Linked DNA regions of Homo sapiens: region 2 is linked to region 1. A link means that fine-mapping ties the variant in region 1 to the expression of a gene that starts in the linked region. Tissue or cell type: whole blood. Region 1 holds a variant in brackets; the other region holds the start of a gene. All regions are shown on one strand. Distances are between the middles of the regions.

Region 1 (5,260 bases):
AGGGAAAATAAAAATAAAAAAAAAAACAGAATATCCAAAATACATGGCACATTCTACTTTGCATTAACATTTGCCAACATATGTTATAAAGACAGGCAGCAGCGTCTTTTTCTGAGACTCTAATACTTCTACCAGAGGAGGAAGGGCTCAGCAAGTGCTTATTGAATAAATGAGCAAGCATGCACAGATGATAACTATTCATACCAGTGAAATGTACTCAGAGGGCACACATTCCTGACATGGTAGTGTTGCTATGACCACACACCTCAATTGTGTTAAGATAAAGGAATTTACACAGAGCTATGAGTTTGTGCCTAAAAGCTTTTAAAGAAATCATCCCATAAACTGGGCTGAGATGTATCAAACCTAGCAGACCCAAAACCCACTATCAATTTATGGAGACCTCACAGATATACCTGCTTTGCTTTATAACAGACACTGCCAAAACTTAAAAAAATAAATAACAGAGGACCAAAAGCAGGTCTGAAAATCATGGGAAAAATGCAGTAAGAACAGTTAGCTTGAAATCACGACTACACCATTATGGACAGCTTAAAGAAGAAGGGATTATTCAGACACTGGGTAGTATTTTCAGATGTTATTAAGTCACCAGGTGGGTTTCCATTTCAATAGAGTGTATTACCCCTTCCTGAGCCATTGTTGTAATGAATTTATGTCAGACTGATTTAATTTTACAGTGAAATAAAATTAACAACTTTCTGGCCCTTCCTTGCAGTTTATTTCTTATGAGTTAAGTGCCAGGACCAAGTCTTCTTCATGTTTGTATTCTGTAGGAGTGCACTTCAACACAGGAGATATTTAATACATATTTTAAAAATTACTATACTGCACTTTTAACTTACAAAATTTTTTCAAGATTTATTATCCCATTTTTGTCTTCACAATTACTCTGTGGGATAAGCAAGAGAGGGATTATAGTCTCTGTTTTGTAAGAGCAGAAACTGAGGTGCAGAGAGCTTACAACTTCTGCCCTTAGTGTTTTAGTGAATTTGCAGATTTCTCTGTGATCCTAAACCCTTCTTTCATTAGTTCTGTCAAAGTTCACAAGTGAATTTCTGAGCTCAGAGGTCCTAAATAACAGATATACTCATCAATGAAAATTACTAATCATTTACTATGGCAAGGGCACACTGGAAGATACAAAATGAGACATGGGCCCTTACAAGAAAGCAGTTTATAATGGTGTTATAGTCACAGGGCATATTAAAATGAATACTATCATTGATGTCAGCTATTTAAGAGAGAACATTATATTTCCTTGTAAGACAAAGAAAGGTATTTCTATTGCTTTACAGTTTATAAATACTTGTTAATTTTCTCTTGTAACTTTTGAGATATTAGCTGTAATGTGGCAAAGATAATACAACAGCAGAAGTTAGGACTCACCAAGCAATCTCTCAATGTCATCCACAACCACACAACTGAGCTGGGATTTGTACGCATCATCAAAGATCTGAAAGAAAACAAAGTCATTTATTATCTCACTGTCCTCCACAGTTACGACAATTTCCAAGAAGTTTAGTTACTTCTTGAGCAATACTAAACAAAGCACAGGAAAACACCAACACTTTGGACTACAATAAATTAGAATTGACACACTGGATCACCGCTGAACAGAGAGCAGGCTAAGGCTGTTTTCAGCACTAACAGCTGTGTGTGTCACACCTGGGCAGGCTGGGGACTAGCTGATCATTAATCAACTGACACATCCCATCACTTCTATCACACTGGTCTCTGGTATCTGTGTCAGGAGCAGGACTTTAGTGTAATGACTCAAGAGCTAGATGGAGCCACAAGAGATGTGTAAAATAAAACTAGATGCCATTTTATTATCTATAAGAATTGTGGCTCTGTTAAGCAAAAGTAACACTGAAAGATCAGAATTCTGTCAACTCAAATCAGACCATAATGGTAAAAGAGCTTACAAAAGAATTAAAGGTTGAGTATGAAGGATCAGATAGATGTACGTATAAAACCAGACAAAAGATATGAATGCACTGTCTTAAGATGGTCAAGAAAATGAGAATGAAATTAAGCAGTGAAGGAACGGTTTTAGCCTGGCAAGGATGTAGTAATTTCAAATCAGATAGAAGAATTAGCTTATCTGCAAGTTGAATAGAAGTACTCAAGGCCTTGAGACTAGCCTTTTTGGAAATGAAGGTACTATTCCAGAGACTACAGGTGGGGCTCAGGAAATCTCATCAGTGTCATGAGTAAGAATTAGTTTCTGCATCCCAGCCCACTCTCTCTGGTTGGTAACCAACCTCAG[C/T]ACACCAAGATAGTAAACCCGATCCCCACCCGCACCAACATCTTGCTTGGAATGGCATATATTCCTTCCTGGGTATCTTTTAACCATTGAAGACTTATAATTAGGTACAGAAATAAAGTCAAACTCATGATATTAACCATTTTTCATGTTAGGTTTAAAAACAACCTGTGTATACTTGGTTTTTAAAGTATTCCTAACAATTAAGTTACCATAATAGAGTCTCACTGTGACCATCTTGATTCAGTTCCTTCCTTACCTCTTTCCTGGCATAAATACTGACAATTTCTCCAGATATTTAATCAGGTCAACCCCTCTGGTGAAAACGTTTTCCTATGCACCATCCCTTTACCCCCTAATTACCCTCCCACACTCTGTCTAAACCCCATCTATCCTTTCGTCCTAAGCTATCTGTCTCCCCACTGGACTGTGAGGTGGATAAAAGCTTTATTCTGTTCATGTTATGTGTAGTGCCCAGCACAGAACAGAATTCAGTAATGATGTCTGCTCTGTAGGTTCAATGGTTGAAACAACACAAGTTCCAATTCCATCTTGCCATAAATCACTTGTCTTCTCCTTTGGCACAGGATTTTGTATATTACGTATATATATTATTGATTCATTGTACTATTTTTGTATTATACTAGATTGCAAGCCCTCAGATGGCAAGTGCTGTCTTAATTACCTCTGTATCCTCATATCATTTAATATAATGCCTTATTAGAGAGTAATTAAGAAGTATTTACTAAAAGAATAAATTTACACATTTTAAATTCAAGTAGAAATATTAAGTGAGAAGTTGGAGATATCTGATTGAAGTCAGGGAATGGAAATCACTCTCAGGGCAGTGACTGCTGAAACCATGACAGAGGAAGCCATCTTCAAGAAGAAATGGCAGAAGAAGAAGAAAAAAAGGCCTAAGGATTGAGTCTTGGAGTGCTGCCTTATTCATTCACTCACTCAACAAATATTTTTGAATTCTTATTATGTATCAAGCATTAATGAAGGCACTGCAGAGGATAATAAATAAGACAAAAATAATCCTACTTTCACAAAAGTTAGAGTTGGGGAAGCAAGTCACATGTAATTATAACAAAGCATGACATTATTAGGCTAGGGGAAATACAAGATGATACGGGGGCACAGGGTAGGCAGTATTTCCCCAGTGCCTTGGAAGTTAGGCATAACTATGGGGCTTGCTTTGGTTAATGAAATATGAGGGGAAATACACCCCTTTCTGAAAGAAGCCTTAGGAGTCACTGCATGATTCACCATACTCCTTTCCCTGCCTTGGCTATCATGGAATCAGATGTAAGGCGGGGCCTCTATTATCTATTAGCTTGAGTCTCTGAGAAAATATAATGAACAGAACTCACTGTCTGAGCCATGACGGAGATATAGTAGTGTAAATAAAAAATAAACTTTGTTGTGTTAAGCCACTGAGATTTTCGGGTTGTCCTTTCATGCAGCATAACTCAGCCTATCTTGACTCTTAAATGGACTTAGGGAGTCAGGACAGTTTCCTAAATTTAGGAAGTGACACTTAACCTGAGACTTGAAGCATGAACAACAGTTAACCAGTGGAAAGGGTGGAAGAAAGTGTTCTAAGCAGAATATACTGAAAATTAGGAGACACAGAGATGTGAACATTCAGGAACACTGCAGGAACGGTCAATAAGAATTAAAATAAAGTGGTGTTGGTGTCAATGCAGTGGAGTGGTAGGTGAGATGAATTAGAAGAGGTGATGAAGGAACTTGGACGTAAAGAGTCTTACAAATTTCATGAGTTAAAATTTTACTGTAAAGGCAATAACAAGCCACTAAAGGGTTATAAGCAATGGACTGACATGTCAGGCTTATGTTTTAGAAACATTTTCCTGATTGTATAGAAAAGCATTAGAGGGGAATAATAGTTAATTGAGATTGTGGAGTTCTAGGTGAGAAATGATGGTGGCCAGGGAGTGGGTGTGCTGGTAAGTGGACAGAATCTAGAGATGTTTAGGAGGAGGAACTGAAAGAACTTGGTGAATGAATGGGTGTGGTGATGAAAGAGAAAACTGGAGTCAAGGATCTGTCCTGATTTGGCAACTGAAATAAAACACAGAGGTGAAGCTGGTTTGAAAATGGATCATGAGTACATTTAAAGAGCAAGAAGGGAAGGGCCTTTTATCTTCTCCTCCCCAAACACAGAAAAAGAGAAAATGAGAATAGGATATTTATTTCAGTCTCTTGATACACAATGATGGTTCCTTTTGGCTTTGAGTTGGTACATTCGAGACAACTGAAAAGCTCAGAAGCAGTTCTACAGCGGTTCTTTGCTACTTTTTTTGAAGATGGAACCGCAGCCAATGTGGTATCTTATAAACTCAGGTAATTTTAAGGAATCACTGAAAATAATGCTTTGCTTTTCAAAACATTTTTCAGAATTCTACTAAAAGCTCTGATGCCAGCATATAACTCTGACCATCAGGCTGTGAGATCATGGATTAGAGCCACAGGGACCTGGAACACCACAGCCTGGCTGGTTGCAGTAGTTCTATGTTTTTCCTTCTCAAAACAATGTACAGCTTATATGGCTGCAAGGACCTTACTCAGGACATTGCTTAGGTCTAAACTAATGATGACTTGCTACATGGTATGTAGTCTCACCAACTTATCTCAGACACTGTAATTCACAAAGCATTCCAAATCACTTCACAGTTGACTGCATGGCCTACACATAACATTTGAGAGGAAAAATACCTGCAGCAGTCACTTAATATCAAGTAGTGACGTTCTTGTTTTTTGCAGTCGGTCTCTGTGCTAATTACTATCAGAGGGAGAGGTGCACTCACAGCAAGCTCTATTAACACACCGACCATGACGAAGGCTGTGCAATTCCAGTTGTAACTTGACTAGTTTCAGGTAACCAGTCAACTGAAACTCCTCCGGGTAGCTACTCTGCTCTAATTTAAATACATACATACACACACA
Region 2 (5,000 bases), 530 kb after region 1:
GATTACAGGAGTGAGCTGCTGCACCAGGCCTTTTTCTTTAAATCTTTTTTTGTTTGTTTGTTTTATTTTGTATGTAGGTGTTTTCAATCAGCCTTTTGGACATCCACTATTTTTTGGGGGGAAATTTAAGAAAATTTGTTTCTCTTCATAAGATTTTTGTGTGGTGGCTCATGCCTGTAATGCCAGCACTCGAGTCCAGGAGTTCGAGACCAGCCTGGGCAACATAGGGAGACTCTGTATCTACCAAAACAAAAAGGAGTGAAAAAAATAACAGCTGGGCATGGTGGCATATGCCTGTAGTGCCAGCTACTCAAGAGGCTGAGGTAGGATCGCCTGAGCCTGGGAGGCTGCAGTGAGTTTGATTGCACCACTGCACTCTAGCCTGGGCAACCGAGCAGGACCCTGTCAAAAAAATAAAAGTACAAGTGGATGCCTAATAAGAAAGATGTCTGATTTTAGATAAGAATATACAACAGGTTGACTGATTTAAGTGCCATAAACCCTGTGAACTCTTGACTCTTGCACTAAGCAATGAGAGAAAGGGGAAACTGGAATTTATAGTTCCCCCAAATACATGGTTTTAAAAATGAGCATTTTCCAGTTTTCTCCTAATCCATTAGAAAAATATATTTCATATAATCTTGCTTATTTGGTTGCCTAATTAAATCTGACAGTTCAGTCTTAAAAATTTGGAGCAGCAGTAAGATTATTTTGTTATGGTGTGTCTGAATTTAATATTTAAGTATACGCTGCAAAGGGCTTTGCCTTATTTGGTATTTTTCATTCTGCTAATTTAGATTTCAGGAGCCTCAGATTGGGGCTCTAGTTCGCCATCTGTTGGTCCAATACCCTTCTACTGTATTTTGTGGAATTACTATTTATGTGTGTATGTGTGTACAATAAAAAAGTCAAAGTTTTTCCCCAGGGTTGTAAATTAAAAATCCAAGACTAAAGACCTCTTTTGGATGTGTATACAAATATTAGTTTATTCTTTGTGTAATTTGACCCTATGACTCCAAACTGCCTGCCTTTGGTATTTGAGAACTATGACTATGCTTGAGAGTGTGATTTTAGGAGTACAAATGGAAATTCGCAGAAACCTAGGTGCAGATGTTGCAGGGGCAGGTGAGTTAGTGTAACTTTGTGGGAAGACTAAAACCGTTCTGTAACGACTGTGAGGGTGTTTTTTGATAAGCAGAAGTGACGTATAATGCCGGATATTGGTTCTGGTAAGCCACAAAAAAGTGTGAAGCATTTTGCGTCTTCCTTTTTGGTAGTAGAGCATACATACCCTTCTTATCTGCCGAATTTGATGATTTAATGATTTGAACGATTTTTTCTTCAGTCATTTAAGCCAGTTTTGATGAATCCTAGATTAGTCTTTTAAATCTCAAGATACTCCACTCATCTTTTGGCAACTTTAAAGGGTGGTAGAATTACACTTTGTGTGACACTTTGTATTACATTATGTTTATGAATTCTTTAAGTCTAGGAAAGGTTCCATTATTTTAAAGGTCCTATTTTGGGGACAATATAAAGTTCTGTACTGATAAACTGGTCATGAGAAATGATAAGGTGCCACCACTTTAAACCAACTCTGGTAACGAGGTGGGAAGTTGGCTTTTTGTTGTGAGACTTGTGTTTCTTTATGGAGTTCTTTGTTAAACTTTTAGCATGGCAGTGAACTTCCTTTTGGTGGCGGCAGGAAGCATAAATACTCATTGTGTAATGCCATTTGCCTGTTTTGGCGGATCTGCCAAGCCATGACACCCAAAACAAGACGCGTGTTTCTTCACGAAAACTACAGTTCCCAGCGGGCCCGGCGCCGGCGGGGCCATCACTTCCCCTCTGGCTCCCGGCTGTCCCTTCCCGGGCTGGCCCGGCGCGGGCCCTGGCTGGGGCCTGCGCAGTGACTACGTGCACCCTCCCCACCCCGCCCAACTCTGGTGGCTGCGGAGCGCGGTGCTGGGGCTAGTGCCCAGCCGTGCTGCAGTATACGGAGGCTGGCTGCTAGGGACAAAGGGCGGGCGGCGGAAGCCGCTTCACTGGTCAGGGAGCTTTCTGCAGGGTTAGCCTTGGAATAGTGTGGTGCCGACGGCCTTACCCTCTTTACTACACAGTGCAAACAGTTCCTCGCTCACGTCCTCTCGCTCCGCGGCGCCGGCCCGCCCTGCCCCTCAACTGGCGAGCCGCACCGCCGGCCCCAGCACGGAGGGCATGTGACGGCGTCAGTGCCTCAGGTTAGACTCACCTCGGCCGCAGCGAGGGCTGGCTTCCCCCTGCCGCAGTGCTGCGTGCCGTCGCCGCACGTCCGGGGCAGCTGGGGCCGGGCGCCGCGGCCTCCGCAGATGGAGGTACAAAAACATCGGCCACGGCGAGGAGCCATGACTGAGGCGGCGGCGGCCGCGCCTCCTGGCGGCCCGCGGGGGCGGCGCGGCGGGCGCCCCCTGGCGGCGCGCCGGGGTGGAGCGGCCCTTCGCCGCCGCAGCCGCAGCCGGCGGAGGCGCTGCTGTCCCTCCTCCCCGTGTCCCCGGCGCTCGCCCGCTTGCTCGCTCGCTCCATTCTCCCTCCGCTTCAGATTAAAGGGGGGGAGGGAAAAGGAGCTCGGCCGCCATTTTCCCAGTGCCGCCGCCACCGCCGCCACCGCTCGCCGAGCCGGCGGGAGAACCGAGCACCGTAGCGAAGCCGACTCGTCTCGCCGCGGCGGCGCGGGGGGCGGCTGAAGCGCGCTCCCCGGCTGGAAAGAGGCGGCCGGGGGTGGCGGCCTGGGTGCGGGTTCGGGCTGCAGACGGCGGTGCTTGTTTGTGCGGGGCGGGGGGGCGGTTTCACTCTCTGCCCCCGCCCGCCCGCCCTCCCGGCCGGGCTGCGGTCTCCAGCCGTGCTCGGGCCCCGTCGGTGCGGAGCAAGGCCGGGAAAGGGCCCGAAAGAGAAGAAAAAGCAGCCGCTCCCCGCCGCCGCCTTCCCCTCCCCCTCTGCCTCGCCCCCCCGCCCGGAAAGTCAGGGCGGCTCCGGGCGTCGGGGGGAGGAGAGCGGCGGGCCCGGGCCGGAGCCGCCGTCGCGCGCCCCCGCCCGCCGCTGGCCCTCGGCGCCCAGGCCGGGGGGCTGTTTGCAAACTGCGCCCATTTTGTGGGGCTGAATCCGCCCGGGCTACGCTCCTCCATCACGTGGTAGGTGCTGCTGCTGCTCCTCTCCTCCTCCTCCTGCTGCCCTTTCTCCTTCTCCTCGCTCTCCCTGTGGCTCCCATTTCTCTCTCTCTTTGTTAGTTGTAACTAGAAAGGCAGGGCAGGGTAGAAAAATCCCCCGGAACTTTAAATGGCCTCTCCGGGCTTCCCTGCTGCGGGTCCGGGCTGGGAGTCGCCCCAAGGGCGGGGGTGTGCGGGGGCCCTTCCCCAGGAGCTGCCGCCTCGTTCGCCAGCTTTTCCTTTGGCGTTCTATTTAAAAAGGCGGCCTGAAGAACATGATTTATTCCCGTAAAAGAACCCCCCAAACAAACTCTGGCTCTCGCCTTGAACTTCTCTTGACTGCAAAAGGCCTTTCTCTGCTCGAAACACACATCTTGGCGCGTTGCACGGTTTGTATCACAACTCTGATTGTTTCATTTATTATTTTTGTTGCCTGTAAATTCAGGTCACTTACGTTTTCAGATGTAGTCTCCCTCAGGCGGACTTTTTTTTTTTTTAAACTAAAGAGGAAGAGGGATTTATTTGCTTTTAAGTGAGTTGGAATCTTAACTGCCTTTTTGGGGGCCTGTTTTCCGGCTGACGGTCTTTTGATTCTTAGCAAATAGTTTGTTTTCCATACGATAAACAGCGCTACTCCCGTGTCTTACTTAAAAATCCTCGTTTTCCAATGTTGGAATCCCAATGTGGATTTATAGAGAAACGTGCTACTTAACTATTGCTTACTGATTGCTTTAGGGGAGAAGGGGTGACATGATGGCGCCACTTTAAATTGCTCTCTTTCCTTTTCCTCGGTCCCCCCCACCCCCCTTTATCCTGGAGGTCACTGGAGCATTTTCTGTGACTTATTAATAAAACTGTACTTGAGGGTGTTAGAAGCACAACTCGTAGGGGCTGGAGTTTAGTGCTCCTAGGGTCGGCAGACCGACTGCCGCGGTCCCCAAAGTTCCGAGAAATCTCTCTTCCTCCAGCCTCGCCTCCCTCCCCTCCATTCACAATCCTGGTGTTGCCATCTCCTTTGTCACGTGGCTAGCAATCATTGTGTTTTTTTGTTTGTTTTGGGGTGTGTGTTTATATTTTTAAATTGCAGCTCAGAGGAACCTTTCCTTTTCGCTTTGGAGAGATCAAAACGTTTTACTTGTTTTAGTTTTAGAGTCGGAGAACATTTTAAAATAAACGATAAAATTACATAATCTTTGCCTTGCATAATCATGATATAGTTATAGATTGCTACTGAACTTCATTTTGAAAGTCCTTTCAAGTATGGAAACTAGTACGTTAGAATATGTTTTCCATTTGTCAGGATGGTCTGTAATTTCTGTTTTCTCTGCTTTTTGGGTCAGTTAAAGGACCACTATTTACAAAGGCTTAAGTGGGTGTGTTTTCCCTTTCCCCTTTCCTATAGGCTCTACTTGGTTCCTTTTCTAGCATGCTGTCTGACCAATTTAGAAAATTTCAATTGTCTACAGGCGTTGTCAGTTAAAACTATTTTTTTAACCTATCAACAGTGAATACTTTTGAGTAGTAATTGTTTTGTGCCTAATGCTAAGTGTATTTATTAGCATTTCGGTGTTGATCTAGAAAATTTTTACTTTTAATCCTGTAGTTTTAGAAGTATGTTATTCCTTTATCTGTTTCTTTATATCAGTTTTTCCCATAATTGGGTAAACTCCTATTTTATAAAATACGAAGTACATTTCTGGTTTTTTCTACATAGGTTACTAGACATTTTTTCAATTTGAAAAAACATTTTGAATTAAGAAACTTTTTTTTTAAAGTAAATACGAAATGTGGTTCTTGAGTATGCATTGATCCTGATTT

What was found. PIP is the estimated chance that this variant, and not a neighbour inherited with it, causes the effect.
Region 2: it holds the start of KANSL1-AS1, and the variant in region 1 is fine-mapped to the expression of KANSL1-AS1 in whole blood (INTERVAL, PIP above 0.99).

What each region holds. Positions count from the first base shown.
Region 1 is chr17:46,722,763-46,728,022 of GRCh38, reverse strand. NSF (N-ethylmaleimide sensitive factor, vesicle fusing ATPase) reads right to left here. Exons shown (of 21, transcript NM_006178.4): 16 at 1,408-1,474. It also overlaps a transcript of LRRC37A2 not described here. Among named protein-coding and RNA genes, the nearest start is that of WNT3, 93 kb to the left of the region's middle. The variant C/T (reference allele first, on the strand shown) is at 2,291.
Region 2 is chr17:46,190,990-46,195,989 of GRCh38, reverse strand. KANSL1-AS1 (KANSL1 antisense RNA 1) reads right to left here and starts at 2,417. Exons shown (of 2, transcript NR_034172.1): 1 at 2,252-2,417. KANSL1 (KAT8 regulatory NSL complex subunit 1) reads left to right here and starts at 2,561. Exons shown (of 15, transcript NM_015443.4): 1 at 2,561-3,167.